Homo sapiens: one gene and its partner. The protein of the gene in region 1 interacts with the protein of each later gene in a pairwise test. Each region holds a gene or a part of one and is shown on either strand. Other genes may lie near its edges.

Region 1 (8,072 bases):
ATGCTGAGAGGATGTCCAGAGCACATCAGCAGGCCATCAACCAGTGGAATGACGTGGAGTTTGGCTGGGGTGGTTGGAGGGGAACCCGGGCCGCACAGCAGCCCGACTCAGGGGAATACCATCTCCTTTCTGGCTCATCCATCTGTTGAAAGCTACTTCCACTCAATAAAACCTTGCACTCATTCTCCAAGCCCACATGTGATCCAATTCTTCTGGTACACCAAGGCAAGAACCCTCGGATACAGAAAGCCCTCTCTCCTTGTGATAAGACAGGGGTCTATTGCGCTGACTAACACAAGCCACCTACAGATGGCTAAACTAAAAGAGCACTCTGTAACACATGCCCACTGGGGCTTCAGGAGCTGTAAACATTCACCCCTAGATACTGCCGTGTGGCCAGAGCCCCACAGCCTGCCCATCTGTATGCTCTCCTAGAGGTTTGAGCAGCAGGGCACTGAAGAAGCAAGCCACACCCCCACTGCATGCCCTGCGAGGGGGACGAGGGAACTTTTCCCATTTCAGTACTGGCTGCTAACTGGGTTAGTTTGCTCAGTTGGTTACAGTGTGCTAATGAAACTACCAATGCTGATTCAATCCTACATGAAAAGTAACTTCACATGAAAATTCCAAATCCATTTGTCAGAGCGTGTGTAGCTGGACTCACTCCTCTGTGAGTTGCACTTGTTCCAGGCGGTCCATCAACTCTCTGTATTGTCTTTGCTTTATTTCGTTTTCCTGTCTGTTATCCATTTGTTTCAGGAGACTCCGGGAATATTCCTCTTGCTTAAGAGCATTAAGCGCAGGACTGAGTGGCCGTTTGTCAAATAGGAAGGATTTCTAGAATGAAAGAGAAGCAATTCATTTATGCTAGAGTACTGAAAAACAAGGTTAATAATTCAGAAGACTAAGATAAATCAGAAAGTATTTCTTAATTTATAATATTTGCCCAGCCCTCAACACACGGACCAGCTGGTGTTGAGGTAACACATAGAATCATATGAGTGTGTTCAAGGATGAAGCTGAGCTGAGCTGTGTTACCAAAACACCAGGGGTTTGGTCTAGGTGCTCACAGCACAGAAAGCCAATCACTGAGACAATGATTATTGCCAGGGAAGAAGGATTTAATTGGGTGCTGTAGCCAAGGAGATGAGAGATCAGTCTCAAATCCATCTCCTTGACCAACTAAAAGTAGGGGTTTATATAGCAGGGAAGAATTGAAACTATGTATGGGAAAACCAGAATTCGGGAGGGATAAGGAAGCAATCATGGTCAATGGAGGGGCCTGGCTCATTGTCTGAATGCAATCATCTGGTGAGTTTCAATTCTTTGACACTTTTTGGAAGGCCTAGTGGTTCTTTTCTGAGGAAGAAACTCAGATAAAACAATGTTAAGTTTCAAGCTTTAAGACCAAAAGGGTCAATTTCTATGTTTATTTAAAACAAAAACAAAAACAAAACCTGTCTGTGGGACTATTGGGTCAGTTTCAACTGGAATCCCATTGCTGAGACAGAGATGAAAAAGGACTCCTGGAGTAGGTTGTGAGTTAGCATTTACAACATCCAGATGGAAGGAAGAAGGAATTCTGAGTGCATGCGAAATCATGCAAGGACAGAGAGGAGCTGAAAGGAGGGCAAACTGAATACCTACTGTGGGCCTGGCCATTCTAGACCCTGGTGATCCAACAGTGAGCAACAACAGAGATCTTCGCACTCATCAAGCCTGCATGCTGATGCAGGAGACAGACAATGAGCAAGAAACGGTACATCAGGTCATTTAAGATAGTGCTAAGTGCTAGGAAGCCCTTATGATAGCAAGTGGCTGGGTGGGAAAAGAGCTAAACTGGTTGGTTATTAGGGAAGGTTTTTCCATGGAGAAAATGAATCACCTTCACTGTAAATATCAGGGAGACCCGTGTTCCATACAGAAGGAACATTAAGCGCAAAGACACTAGATGGAAACAAGCTAGGCATGTTCAATGAGCAGAAAAAAAGTCTCTGTGGCTGAGGCATAGTGACCAAGGGAAAGGAGAAGGCATAGTGACCAAGAGGAAGGCAGGAGTCAAAGCGTGTAGAATTTGATAGTTGAAGGTGAGGAGTCTAAATTTCATTTTAACTCAATGGGAGGCCAGTGGAGGTTTTAAATGGGAGAATAGTATGTTTTGGTTAACAATATTATAATATCACTTTGGCTGGTGTGTGGAGAATAAATTATAGGAGAGCAAGAATGCAAGCAGTGAATCTAAGGGAAGTATTGGAGAAGTTGAGCATAACAATGTGGCTTGGCAACACTTTCAGTGTGGCAACATTAAAGATGAAGACATTTGGACAGGTATTGGATACATTTTGGAGGTAAAGGCAACTGGACTTGCAAATGATCGGAAGTCAGGAACAGAGAAAGGAATATTGTGATCATGACTAAATACAGGTTTGTGCAAAAATGGCTGGTTGGTGATGCCACTTACTAACATGAGAAGACAGAAAGGAACAGGTTAAGGAGGGAATCAAAAGTTCTGTTTAGGTCTTTTTAAATTTAAGATGTGTATAGATATATCAAAGAAGAGATACACAGCAGTAATAAATATAATCTGGAGCTTATATATAAAGAGAGAGAAAGATCATGCCTAAATTTCAGAAGCCCCATGCTCGCTCGCTCTCTCCTTCCTTCCCTGTTTCCCTGCCTGGAATGCTCTTCCTCCCTTGATTTCTTTACCTAACTCTTGTATGTCAGAAAGTCTTTCCAGATCTCTGGTCTAGGTTAATGAATCTCTTCTTTTGCTCATATAGTGCCCTTTTTTCAGAGATTTATCATCGCATTTATTATACCACACAGTTGTCTCTTTAAGTGTCTGTCTCTCCCACTAGAGACCTCTTCAGAAGAGGGAACCTTGTATTCCTAGACACCAGCACAGTGGCTGGCCTGGAGGAATTCAATAAATGTTTGATGATGAATAAATAAATTATAATTTATTAGATTTATGTCCGGAGTGTCGACTACCTAGATGGTGATATATAAAGAGGAAGATTCAGGCAGAAATAAAGGTAGGCACATGATGATTGAAAACATTAAAACAAGCAGTGAAGCAGTTGGCTCACCACCATCTGAATCTGAGTTTCTCAAACATTAATGCAAATACAAATCACCTGGGGATGTTATTCCACCATAGATGCCCATTCAGGGAGTCTGGGGTGAGGCCCTAGATTCAGCATTTCCAGCAAGTTCCCAGGCAATGCTGATACTGCTGGTTCTCTTAGGTCCTTGGGCTGGACTTTAGTAGTATACTGCTCCCTCCTCTCCACCCATCCCACGTCCTGGTTGAGAATTACCATAATTAACAAGACCTGCAGTGACTAGTAGGAATGGTACAGTGAATGTGAGTGGTGTGGCTATAGACACTGGACAACACCTGCCCTAGAAGAAAGCTTCAAACTGCACCACCCACTTTTCAACTCCGCTGCTTAAAAAAAATGGCACAACTGGCTGGGCATGGTGGCTCACACTTGTAATCCCAGCACTTTGGGAGGCCAAGACGGGCAGATCATGAGACCAGGAGTTCAAGACCAGCCTGGCCAACATGGCGAAACCCTGTCTCTACTAAAAATACAAAAATAGCGGGGCATGGTGGCGGGTGCCTGTAATCCCAGCTACTCGGGAGGCTGAGGCAGGAGAATGACTTGAACCCGGGAGGCAGAGTTGCAGTGAGCTGAGACCACACCATTGCACTGCAGCCTGGGTGACGGAGCAAGACTCCATCTCAAAAAATAAAAATAAAAAATAAGGCACAACCTGCAACACAGGGAGTGGATCCAAAGGCTCACAGATGGGCCAGGTGTTAGCAACAGAAATTTTTAAAAGACTTACATAAAATTCCGGTTTCTCATTCTTGTGGTTTCTTATAGCTTCAGCAACTCCAAGATTATAGGCAGCATTTTTCTGATTCTGTTCTCTAGTAGCCAGACTTTTCATCTATTGTTTAAAAAAAAAAAAAGTTTATTTTTAAATTTTAAATTACATATTGAAGTGGAGCCCCCAAAAATTTTAATTCTATTACATTAAAATAATCCAGCCATGGTAGAAACCTGCCTTTTGGAGGCAGTGGTACTTTCTGATATCTCTATAGATTTATAAAAGTAGATTGGGAAAGGTATTTTATTTCCTTTTCTTGGCCTTTAGGTACCACCACTAGAGGGATCTAAGGAATGGAAGAATTCATCACAAATGCAGGAAAGGGCAGGCAGCAGGGTCAATTATTAGACACCACATAAATCTGGATACAGCAAGTGTAAAAGTGCCATTCTGTCTTTGCTTGAAATAGGACATGAATCTGAAGGGTAAAAGCCTTCACCAGAGTTATATTTTATCAGAAATAAAGAAACATAAATCCAATAATTCCACCTTTAAAATTCAGACCTTAGGTTAAAGAAAATCAGTGATATGTGCAAACATTCGACTGCATGGAATTCATCCCAGTGTTGTTTATTATTAGTGAAAACTTCAACGCAAGTTTTAGTCTAACAGTAAATACGTGATTAGATATCCCACAGTACAGACATATGATGGAACATTTTTAAATTACATTATAGGCTGGGCTCAGTGGGTAATGCCTGTAATCCCAGCACTTTGGGAGGCAGAGGCGGGAGTTGGAGCCTCTGGATGCTTGAGCCCAGGAGTTGGAGACCACCCTGGGCAACATGGTGAAACCCTGTCTCTACAAAAAATACATAAATTAGCCAGGTGTAGTGACGTGTGCCTGTAGTCCCAGCTAATCTGGAGGCTGAGGTCGAAGGATCATCTGAGCCCAAGTAGGTCAAGGCTGCAGTGAGCAGAGGTTGTGCCACTGCATTCCAACCTGGGTGACAGAGTGAGACCCTGCGCCAATAAAAAATAATAATAAATTACATTATATAATCATGTTCTATTGCCCCATATTAAAGACTAATCGAGGTGTTGGACTACCTGGTGTCTGAAGAGAGCCTCCTGATCCTTTAACATCTGATACTGCTGTATGAGTCTCTCATCTTCTATCTCTCTCCTCCTTTCCTCACTGTAGTACAACAGGGAATTTCGTTGTGCTCGTTGCAAACATACATAGCACATTTCCTACAATCCCAAATTTCAGGACAAATAAATTTTTACATTTTACCTTTTTGCTTTCGCATTCCCTTCACAAGCTCTCCAAAGGCTAGGTATATCAAGAAACCTATTATTAATGGATATATTAGTGACAGCAAAATGAGATTTGCAGAGTGGACCCCAGAAATACTCTAAAGGATCTTCTGAACTCTCACTTCATCAGAAGTATTTATAGCAGCTGAAACTTAGAAAGGGATTTCTCAACTCTTTTTTTGTTTACCAGTACATCTTGACTAGTAGATAGATTTATCACAGTCTAGTTTTGAGCCTGAGTACTTGAGTACTTGAGCCATACTCATATAATTAAGGAAGAGAGATTCCCAGAACTCTCTTTGAGAAACAAAAATCAGTATAAGATTCTGATGGGACTTATTTGTTTGGAAACACTGTACCTGTCCTGCCTTGTTATGATCCTGGCAAGCTGGAGATGTTTGGGGCTTCATCTCACTGTCGTGTTTCAGACAACTTGGATATGATAAGCTATAAAAACAATGCAACATTAATTAATGTTTAATACAATCTGACCTCAAGGGCAATAATAATTTTAGAGGCAAGTATAAGATGAAGAAAAATATTTCAGTGGTTTACTTCAAAACAGCTATATGTATAGAGGTTAAGAATATGTACCACAGAATCTGAATTTGTGTCAGATAAAGGTGGGTTTGAATCCCAGCTTTCTTGCTTGCAAGATGACTGACATCAGACCAGCTGTGTAATCTTGCAAAGTCCCAGTTACCAGTCATGTGAAATGGGGATGAAATGTATTCATTCCACAGAAATGTATTGAGTGCTTACCATGTACACTGTTCTAAGCACAGGAGAAGCAATGAAGAACAAAATACACACATACAAAAGTCCCTGCCCTCATGGAATTAACATTCTGATGGGGATAGACAGCCCAGTGACAAGATAAATAAGTGCACTCTATAGTATGTTCCATGATGATAAATGCCTTGCAATGCTGGAGGAATGGAGTGTTAAACTGTAAAGAGAATGGCCAGGGAAGTTCTTACCAAGGAAGTGACATAGGAGTAAATACCTGAAGGAAGTAAGAGAACAACAGTGTAGATATCTGATGGAAAAGACATTCCAAGCAAACAAACCAGTGCAGTCCTTCAGGTGGAAGGTGCCTATGGTCAGTGTGGTGGAGGGAGATGAATTAGGGGTGAGTATTAATATTAATACTAGTATTAATTCATTAGAAAATAGGACAGATAGTATCACCTAAAAAGCAGCTCGAAGAATGAAAATATTTATTTTTTAATTTTATTTATGTTATTTTATTTTTTGAGACAGAGTCTCGCTCTGTCACCCAGGCTGGAGTGCAATGGCGCAATCTCAGCTCACTGCAACCTCTGCCTCCCAAGTTCAAGTGATTCTCCTGCCTCGGCCTCCTGAGTAGCTGGGATTACAGGTGCACACCACCATGCTGGGCTAATTTTTGTATTTTTAGTAGAGACGGGGTTTCACCATATTGGTCAGGCTGGTCTCGGACTCCTGACCTAGTGGTCTGCCCACCTCGGCCTCCCAAAGTGCTGGGATTACAGGCATGAGCCACCGCGCCAGGCCAAGAATGAAAATATTTAAAAGTAGAGAAATAGAGAACAGATTCAGAAGCTCAAACATGCATTTAATAGAAGTGCTGAATTTTTAGAATAAAGGAAATGGCAAAGAACAATATTCTAGAAAATAACAGATAAGAATTTTCCAGAAAATCATGACTCCTAAGAATAGTCATGCAGAACATCAAGAAATAAGAAAGATTCTTAAAAGCTACAAGAAAGAATGACAACCAGATTGATTCGGACGTTGCATCAGGACAACTGTCAGGAGAAAATGGAGCAATATCATTAAAATGCTGAAGGAAAATAACTGTGAACCAAGAATCAGCACTCAAGAGCGACAACACAGTAAGAATCATTTTAAGCAATACAAAGAATAAGTGTACTGAAAAGACAGGGAACCATTACAGGATATACTTTAGCAAGAAGAAAAATGAACCTAGGAGGAAGGACAGGGATATAAGAAACAGGCCAGGCATGGCGGCCCACACCTGTAATACCAGCACTTTGGGAGGCCGAGGCAGGTGGATAACTTGAGGTCAGGAGCTCGAGACCAGCCTGGCCAACATGGTGAAACCCTGTCTCCGCTAAAAATACAAAAATTAGCCAGGCATGATGGTGTGCGCCTGTAATCCCAACTACTCAGGAGGCTGAAGCAGGAGAATTGGTTGAGCGTGGGAGGCGGAGGTTGCGGTGAGCCAAGATCACGCCACTGCGCTCCAGCCTGGGCAAAAAAAAAAAAAAAAGAAAAAAGAAGAAATGATGGTGACCAAAGAAATTGGTAAAACATGTTGACAAATCCAAATTAATCATTGACCATAAAATAATACAAAATGTTTTAACACTTAAAACCAAATTGGAACAAAAGTTCTAGACAAAAAAAATACAGGTTTGGAAGGGGATACAGTTTGAAGGAAATTGAAAGCATACTGAAGAAACATGGTCAAAGGAAATTCAAAGCATACTAAAGAAATGAGATCAGTCCAACAGAAAAGGGGTAATAATGAAGTTAAATGCACAGTAAATAGAAAATACAAAATAAGACAGTAAAGATAGGTTCAAATATACCAATAATTACAACTGAAATTAAAGTCTAGATTGAGTTTTAAAACATCCAAATATAAGCTATTTAGTAGAGACACACATGAAATAATAAAACACACACAAAAATTCTTAAAATGGCATTAAAAGGCTATTCCAGGTAAATACTAATCAGATGTTGCACTGTTAATTACATAGTACAGAAATGAAGGCAAAAGATTTTAGTAGAGATGAAGGAAAATATTTCATAATGATAAAAGGAACTATCTACCAAAAAAAATCCTAGACATGTAGAATTTAATATTGCTTAAGAAGCAAAAATTGATGTAATTACTGAAA
Region 2 (8,072 bases), on another chromosome or scaffold:
TGAGCATTTTCTATCAGCTCCTCCTCTTGATACCAAATGAGGCCCATTCTGCTCATCGCACAGTAAGCCAATCACTGAGGTGACCAGTTTTTTTTTTTTGTTTTTGAGACGGAGTCTCGCTCTGTCGCCCAGGCTGGAGTGCAGTGGCGCAATCTCGGCTCACTGCAAGCTCCGCCTCCCGGGTTCACGCCATTCTCCTGCCTCAGCCTCCCGAGTAGCTGGGACTACAGGCGCCTGCCACCATGCCTGGCTAATTTTTTGTATTTTTTAAGTAGAGACAGGGTTTCATTGTGTTAGCCAGGATGGTCTTGATCTCCTGACCTCGTGATCCGCCCGCCTCAGCCTCCCAAAGTGCTGGGATTACAGGCGTGAGCCACCGCGTCCCGCCAAGATGACCAGTTTTGCAGCACAGAATGCATTTATTCATGAGGCAGCCAAGTGAGGAGATGGGAAAACAGGTCTCAAACCCACTTCCTCGAAGATGGGGTTTAGAGACGTTTATGGGACAAAGAAGCAGGTGGCCTAAGGTGTGGGGAAGGTGATTGGAGGGAAAAGTAGGACATCGGCAATCTGTGCAAGCCTAGTCAAGCTTCATCGTTCTTCATAGGATGCAGGTTCACAAAATGGTGGCATTAGCATGATGGAAGATGGAGTTTTTGGCGCTCTGACATCAAACGTCACCTACTGGACACTCACACAGACCAAGTTGAAGGATTGATGGTCATAAGTGGCTTGAACTGGATAAGAGCTGACCCCAAGTTCCTGAAAAACAACTTTTTTTCTTTTCTTTTTTTTTTTTTGAGATGGAGTTTCACTCTCGTCACTCAGGCTGGAGTGCAATGGCGTGATCCTGGAGGCTCACTGCAACCTCTACCTCCTGGGTTCAAATGATTCTCCCTCAGCCTTCCGAGTGGCTGGGATTACAGGCGCCTGCCACCACACCAGGCTAATTTCTGTATTTTTAGTAGAGACGGGGTTTCACCATCTTGGCCAGGCTGGTCTCGAACTCCTGACTTCAGGTGATCTGCCTACCTTGGCCTCCCAAAGTGCTGGGATTACAGGCGTGAGCCACCGTGCCCAGCCCTTGAAAAACAACTTAAACAACCATTACTATGATGACCTATATGTCAGAGATGTTATCCAGCAGGAAGCTAGTGGAAGTCCAGTTAAATATTGCTTAGCTACATGACTTTTAGCTCTATAGGCTTTTTTCTTTTTTAAAGACAGGGTCTCACTCTATAACCCAGGCTAGAGTGCACTGATGGTAATCACAGCTCACTGCAGCCTCAATCTCCTAGAGTCAAGCCATCCTCCCACCTCAGCCTCCTGAGTATCTGGGACTACAGGCACATGCCGCCACATCTGGTTTTGTTTTGTTTTGTTTTGTTTTGTTTTTATTTTCAGTAGAGAGAAAGTCTCGCTGTGTTGCCTAGGCTGGTCTTGAACTCCTGGGCTCAAGTGATCCTCCAGCCTCGGCCTCCCAAAGTGCTGGGATTACAAGTGTGAGCCACTGCCCCCAGTAGCTATATAGGTTTTAAGATCAACTAGAAGCAAGTGACTAAAATCAAGTAAGGTAGGTTAAGTTCTGCAGGCCTAATCTAGCCCTCGGGTTCACTCCCACCTTTGCACCATCCTGCTGGCTTCCCTTTTCATCTTTCCATCCCTTCTTCTCATCACCTTCCCTCCCAGAACTCCAAATTCTCCCCTTCTATAACCCAGAGGAATTCAACATTCCCCAGTTCCTACCAGCAAACTTCATTCCTAACCCAGCCAGCTTTGCAGATCTGCAGATCCTCTGCAGGGAGAATAGGGGACTCTCCTGGTCGGTAGCTGCCCTTCTTAGAAGACACTTGCTATTGTAAATAGAACTTGGTTGGTTTGCCCTTAATAATGCCTCATGCTTGGTGATCTTCTGCACACAGAGCTCTTTTGCATGCAACATCTCTTGGAAGCTTTTCAGAAGCCTGCAAGGAGACGTTAAGCATCTTATTCCAAGTGCAACAGCTAAGTGGGAACAGGAAACCTATTCCCTCTGGCCAGGTGCAGTGGCTCATGCCTGTAATCCTGGTACTTTGGGAGGCTGGGGCGGAGGATCACTTGGGGCCCAGAGTTTGAAACCAGCCTAGGCAACATTTTTTGTGTGTCTACAACATTTTTTTGTCTCTACAAAAAGGAAAAGAAGGGAAAGGAGAGGAGAAAAAGGAGAGGAGAGAAGAAAGGAGAGAAGAGGAGAGGAGAAAGGAGAGAGGAGAGGACCGGAGAGGAGAGGAGTGGAGAGGAGAGGAGCAGAGAGGAGAAAGGAGAAGAGGGGAGAAAGGAGATGGGGGAAGGGGAGGGGAGGGGAACTTGTTCCCTTGATGGCCAGCCTAGGGCCCTTCAGCGCTTCATTTATGTGAATACGTGAATAACTATCACAACGTAAACCATATTTCTTACTGAAGATCTTCTTTTAAAAATGCTAAATACGCCGGACGCAGTGGCTCATGCCTGTAATCCCAGCACTTTGGGAGGCCAAGGCGGGTGGATCACCTGAAGTCAGGAGTTCAAGACCAGCCTGACCAATATGGTGTGAAACGCCATCTCTACTAAAAATATAAAAATTAGCCGGGCATGGTGGCGTGCGACTGTAGTCCCAGCTACTTGGGAGGCTAAGACAGGAGAATTGCTTGAACCGGGGAGATGGAGGTTGCAGTGAGCCAAGGTCGCGCCACTGCACTCCAGCCTGGGCAACAGAGCAAGACTCTGTCTCAAAAAAAAAAAAAAAAAAAAAAAAAAAGCTAAATAAACCCACAGTCTCAGAAATTCCTGGTGAAGGAAAATGTGATTTCTGTCCCTGACACCCTGGAAATGCCCTTTGGAGAAATGAAAGTGAAGCTGATGTGTTGACTGCCTTCAGTTGCTCTCCCACTCACACGCCCTCTTCACTGTGGAAGGTCTTGCCAAATCCTTTCCACTGAAACCACCCAGAACTGCAACAGGCTCACTCATGTTCCTTGAAAATGTCATGGACAACTAGAGGAATGGGGAGAAACAAAGGGGAAGCTGGAACTCCACCTCCCCAGCATTGGATTGCCACTGCTTCCCAGCCAGCCTCTTGGCCCCAGTAGCCAATGGCCAGCGCAGGACGGGGAGCCTGCCCAGGGTCGCGTGTCCAGATGAGGCTTTGGAATTAGACTGCACAGCACAGTAATTTCAGTTACTGGACCCAAAGTGACTTCTGCCTGCATTCTCGGGTGGGAGGTCCATCTATAGCAGGGGAAAGAGACTGGGGCATCATCCATTCTTTCGTATATTCACAGATATGTATGGTATGTCCTGCCCCAGGTGATGTTCTAGGCGCTAGAAACACAGTGGTAATTACAGGCAAAGCCTCTGCTCTTATGCTGCTTGCCCATCAGTGTGGGAGACAGACAAGGAACAAACAAATAAAAAGAACAAATACACCAAGAGACAACTGTCACTGTCACAGGCTCAGTTGGAAGAAAAATGCATTTCACTGTTTTTTCTTTTTTTTTTGAGACAGGGTCTTACTCTGTCACTCAGGCTGGAGTGCAGTGGCACATTCATGGCCCAATGTAGCCTCGAATCCCTGGGCTCAAGCAATCCTCTCACCTAAGCTTCTTGAGTAGCTGGGACTATAGGCATGCACCACCTTGCCTGGCAAATTTTTAATTTTTTTTGTAGAGACAAGGTCTTGCTGTGTTGCCCAGGCTGGTTGCTAACTCCTGGCCTTCAGTGATCCTCCTGCCTCAGCCTCCAAAACTGTTGAGATTACAGGTGTGAGCCACTGTGCTCAATGCATTTTTTTTTTTTTTGAGACAAGATTTGGCTCTGTCACCCAGGCTGCAGTGCAGTGGCGTGACTGCAGCTCACTACAGCCTCAACTTCCTGGGCTCCAACAATCCTCCCACTTCAACCTCCCATGTAGCTGGGGCCACAGGCGCGTGCCACCATGCCCAACTTATTTTTCATTTTTAAAATTTTGTTTGGAGAAGGAGTCTAGCTCTGTTGCCCAGGCTGGAGTGCAGTGGCGTGATCTCGGCTCACCACAACCTCCGCCTCCCAGTGTCAAGCAATTCTCCTGCCTCAGCCTCCCAAGTAGCTGAGATTACAGGTGCACACCACCATGCCTGGCTAATTTTTGTATTTTAGTAGAGACGGGGTTTCACCATGTTGGCCAGGCTGGTCTTGAACTCCTGACCTCATGATCTGCCTGCCTCGGCCTCCCAAAGTGCTGGGATTACAGGCATGAGCCACCGCGCCCAACATATTTCACATATACATATTGCAGGGGGTAGTGACATCCCTTCACGTAGCTGAGTTCTTCTTGGGATGCGGTAGGCAAGGAGAAAGGATGGCCTCACGAGAGAGGCTCCACCAACTAAAATTGTGAAGAAAGCGCCATGGGAATGGGGGATGGGGACTGGGCTGGAAGGTGGAGGAGTTGGTGCGTGCTATTGCACTGCTCTGCTCAAGCCGGACCCCTCCCACCTCAACCCCCACACTGTTGACTTTGCCTCCCACCTCAGAGGAAATGGAAACTTAGGTGTGAGCTCTCAACTTCCTGCCCCCAAGCCCCTTCTCTCTGGTTCTATTCAGTGTCACTCCCTTCTCTAATCCTTGTTCCCTTTTGAAAGTTCATTCTGGGTGGGCAGGGTGGCTCACGCCTGTAATCCCAGAACTTTGGGAGGCCGAGGCATGCGGATCACTTGAGATTAGGAGTTCAAGACCACCCTGGCCAACATGGTGAAACCCCCTGAGTAGCTGAGGAGGAGCTTAACCTCCTGAGTAGCTGTGACTATAGGCACATGCCGCCACACCTGGCTAAGTGTAAGAGTGTGTGTGTGTGTGTGTGTGTGTGTGTGTGTTGTGTGTGTGTGTATATAGAGACAGGGTCTTGCTATGTTGCCCAAGCTGATCATGAACTCCTGGACTCAAGTGATCCGCCTGCCTTGGCCTCCTGAAGTGCTAGGATTACAAGCATGAGCTACTGCACTCGGCCAGTGCAAACACTTCTTTGCGATCCTTCAGTAGCCCTCAGTAGTCCTGTACTCACAATCTTATCGGCCCTCTGTGGCAACAACTCCAGGTCTGCCAGCACAGGTAGGATCCAGCTTTCATACCTTCCCAGGGCCTGAACTCGGTCATGCAGCCATTGTGTACTCCCTGTTTTCTGTACTCTCTATCATCCTTCCCCAGGGCTTCCTCTCTCTGGAAGCACCTTGGCCATTAAACCAGCCTGGTGGCCTAGAGGACATCCTACTGGAACTAGGATGTGATTCTCTTAGGCCCCCTCTCTCAGCTGCCCTCTCTCAAAAAGCAAGCTCTCCTTGGTTCTATTAAAAATGTGTCGGCCGGGCGTGGTGGCTCATGCCTGTAATCCCAGCACTTTGGGAGGCTGAGGCAGGCGGATCACCTGAGGTCAGGAGTTCGAGACCAGCCTGGCCAACATGGTGAAACCCCATCTCTACTAAAAATACAAAAAAAATTAGCCGGGCATGGTGGCACACACCTGTAATCGCAGCTACTGGAGAGGCTGAGGCAGAAGAATCGCTTGAACTGGAGAGGTGGAGGGTGCAGTGAGCCGAGATCACGCCATCGCACTCCAGCCTGGGGTACAAGAGCGAGACTTCATCTCAAAAAAAAAAAAAAGAAAGAAAGAAAAAAGAAAAGAAAAAGTGCCTCTCTGCGGTCCATTTCACTTGTAAGAACAAAACTGACAAAAAATATTTATTACTCTGAGTAGTTCTGAAAATGACCCATGGTTTCACTTTCTGACAACATCATTCCACTTCCTCTTTCCCAAGAAACTGATGAGAATGAAATTTCCTTGACCTTGAAACCCAAGCAATAGTTTTTTTTGGAAGCTACACTACATGGCCAATTTATTCTTTCCAGTGTTATCAAAGTAAATGTACGTAGTGCAAAAATCAAGTAATGCAGAGTTTATAACGAAAAGCAACAGCCCCTGTCTTCCCGCCTCGACCTTCCACGCAGTCACAATCCAGATACAACAGCTTTGAATGCGCAGGTCGTGGTATTTATTTCTATCGCTCTAAAGAGTATTGTTTCAGGAAAAACTCTGCAAGCGGTGTTTTTCCTCTGTTCTCACACCAGCACAACAATCACCAACACAGAAAAGGGCTTCTGTGACCAAATGTGTGAGGGTTTTTCCGCCACACACCAAGCAGTGAACACCAGCTGGGTGTTCTCCAATTCAATGCCAGCACTATAGACCCAGAGATAGTATCAGATCTCACAGCTCAGTTCCCAAGACTGCTGCCCCCAACTCCCCAGACGTCAGTCGCAAGTCCGGGCCTCTGGAACTTGAGAGCAACCAGCTTCAAGTTGGGGTTCTCACAACTCCCTCTTTGAGATCGGTGTTTTTTTTTTTTTTTCAGATGGAATCTCGCTCTTGTTGCCCAGGCTGGAGTGCAATGGCACAACCTCGGCTCACCGCAACCTCTGACTCCCAGGTTCAAGCAATTCTCTTGCCTCAGTCTCTCAAGTAGCTGGGATTACAGGCGTGCACCACCATGCCCAGCTAATTTTTTGTATTTTTAGTAGAGAAGGGGTTTCACCATGATGGCCAAGCTGGTTTCGAACTCCTGACCTCATGTGATCCGCCTGCCTCAGCCACCCAAAGTTATGAGATTACAGGCGTGAGCCACTGCACCCAGCCTTTGCTTTTGTTTTGAGATGGAGTCTTGCTCTGTTGTCCAGGCTGGAATGTAGTGGCGTGATCTCGGCTTACTGCCACCTCTGCTTCCTGGCTTTAAGCAATTCTCCCGCCTCAGCCTCCTGAGTAGCTGGGACTACAGGCATGTGCCACCACACCCAGCTAATTTTTGTATTTTTAGTAGAGACAGGGTTTCGCCATGTTGGCCAGGCTGGTCTTGAACTCCTGACCTGAAGTGATCTGCCCTCCTCAGCCTCCCAAAGTGCTGGGATTACAGGCGTGAGCCACCGCACCTGGCCGTGTTATGCAGTTTTATTGGAGGTTTGATGGTAACAAAAGGCGACACCACAGCATAACCTAGGTAGCAATTTAAGGCTGGACATGAGGCATTACTGTCCTAGAAACGCCTTGGTCATTTGCCACTATGGGAGCTTCCTAACCAGGATCTGACTTGTGCTCTCTTCTTGACCTCTCACTCTGCTGCTAACCTTTTCCGAGACTTTCCCGGTCTCTGGTCTGTCAGCTTCCAGCCCCCAAATGCCTGTTAACTCTCTCATGCAGATCAACTCAGTTTGCCCTGTATCTTCAGCTTCACCCTTCTGACCATAACTCACTCAAAGAGACCCATCCAGCTATTTTTCTAACCCTCAACTCAAACAAAAGCTCTCAAAATTTCTCTCCCCTGCTATGCATTAAGTCTGACTTGTCCTTGTGATTAAAAACAACTGGCTGGGCATGGTGGCTTGCACCTATAATCCTAGCACTTTGGGAGGCCGAGGCAGGTAGATCACAAGGTCAGGAGTTCGAGACTAGCTTGGCCAACATGATGAAACCCCGTCTCTACTAAAAATATAAAAATTAGCCAGGCGAGGTGGCACACACCTTTAATCCCAGCTACTCAGGAGGCTGAGGCAGGAGAATTGCTTGGGAGGCAGAGGTTGCAGTGAGCCAAGATCGCGCCACTGCACTCCAGCCTGGGCGACAGAGCAAGCCTCTGTCTCAAAAAACAAACAAACAAACAAACAAACAAACAAACAAAAAAACTGGCCTGGTGCAGTGGCTCACGCCTGTAATCCCAGCACTTTGGGAGGCCGAGGCAGGCAGATCACGAGGTCAGGAGATCGAGACTATCCTGGCTAACACGGTGAAACCCCGTCTCTACTAAAAAAATACAAAAAAATCAGCCGGGCGTGGTCGTGGGCGCCTGTAGTCCCAGCTACTCGGGAGGCTGAGGCAGGAGAATGATGTGAACCCAGGAAGCAGAGTTTGCAGAGAGCCCAGATCGCGCCACTGCACTCCAGCCTGAGTTACAGAGCGAGACTCCGTCTCAAGAAAAAAAACAACCCTGCAGTCAATTATTGCTTTAAATGGCACCTTCCCCCTCCTGCTGCAT

The links. The genes of interacting proteins can lie anywhere in the genome.
Region 2: the proteins of CCDC81 (region 1) and SCIMP interact in binary tests that used the Homo sapiens proteins (3 or more experiments, as listed by UniProt).

Annotation. Positions count from the first base shown.
Region 1 is NC_000011.10:86,405,152-86,413,223, reverse strand, and holds part of CCDC81 (coiled-coil domain-containing protein 81), read right to left. Parts: intron 5,611-8,072; coding exon 5,523-5,610; intron 5,098-5,522; coding exon 4,954-5,097; intron 3,964-4,953; coding exon 3,859-3,963; intron 838-3,858; coding exon 665-837; intron 1-664.
Region 2 is NC_000017.11:5,224,089-5,232,160, reverse strand, and holds part of SCIMP (SLP adapter and CSK-interacting membrane protein), read left to right. Parts: intron 1-8,072. UniProt on the Homo sapiens protein: Lipid tetraspanin-associated transmembrane adapter/mediator that acts as a scaffold for Src-family kinases and other signaling proteins in immune cells.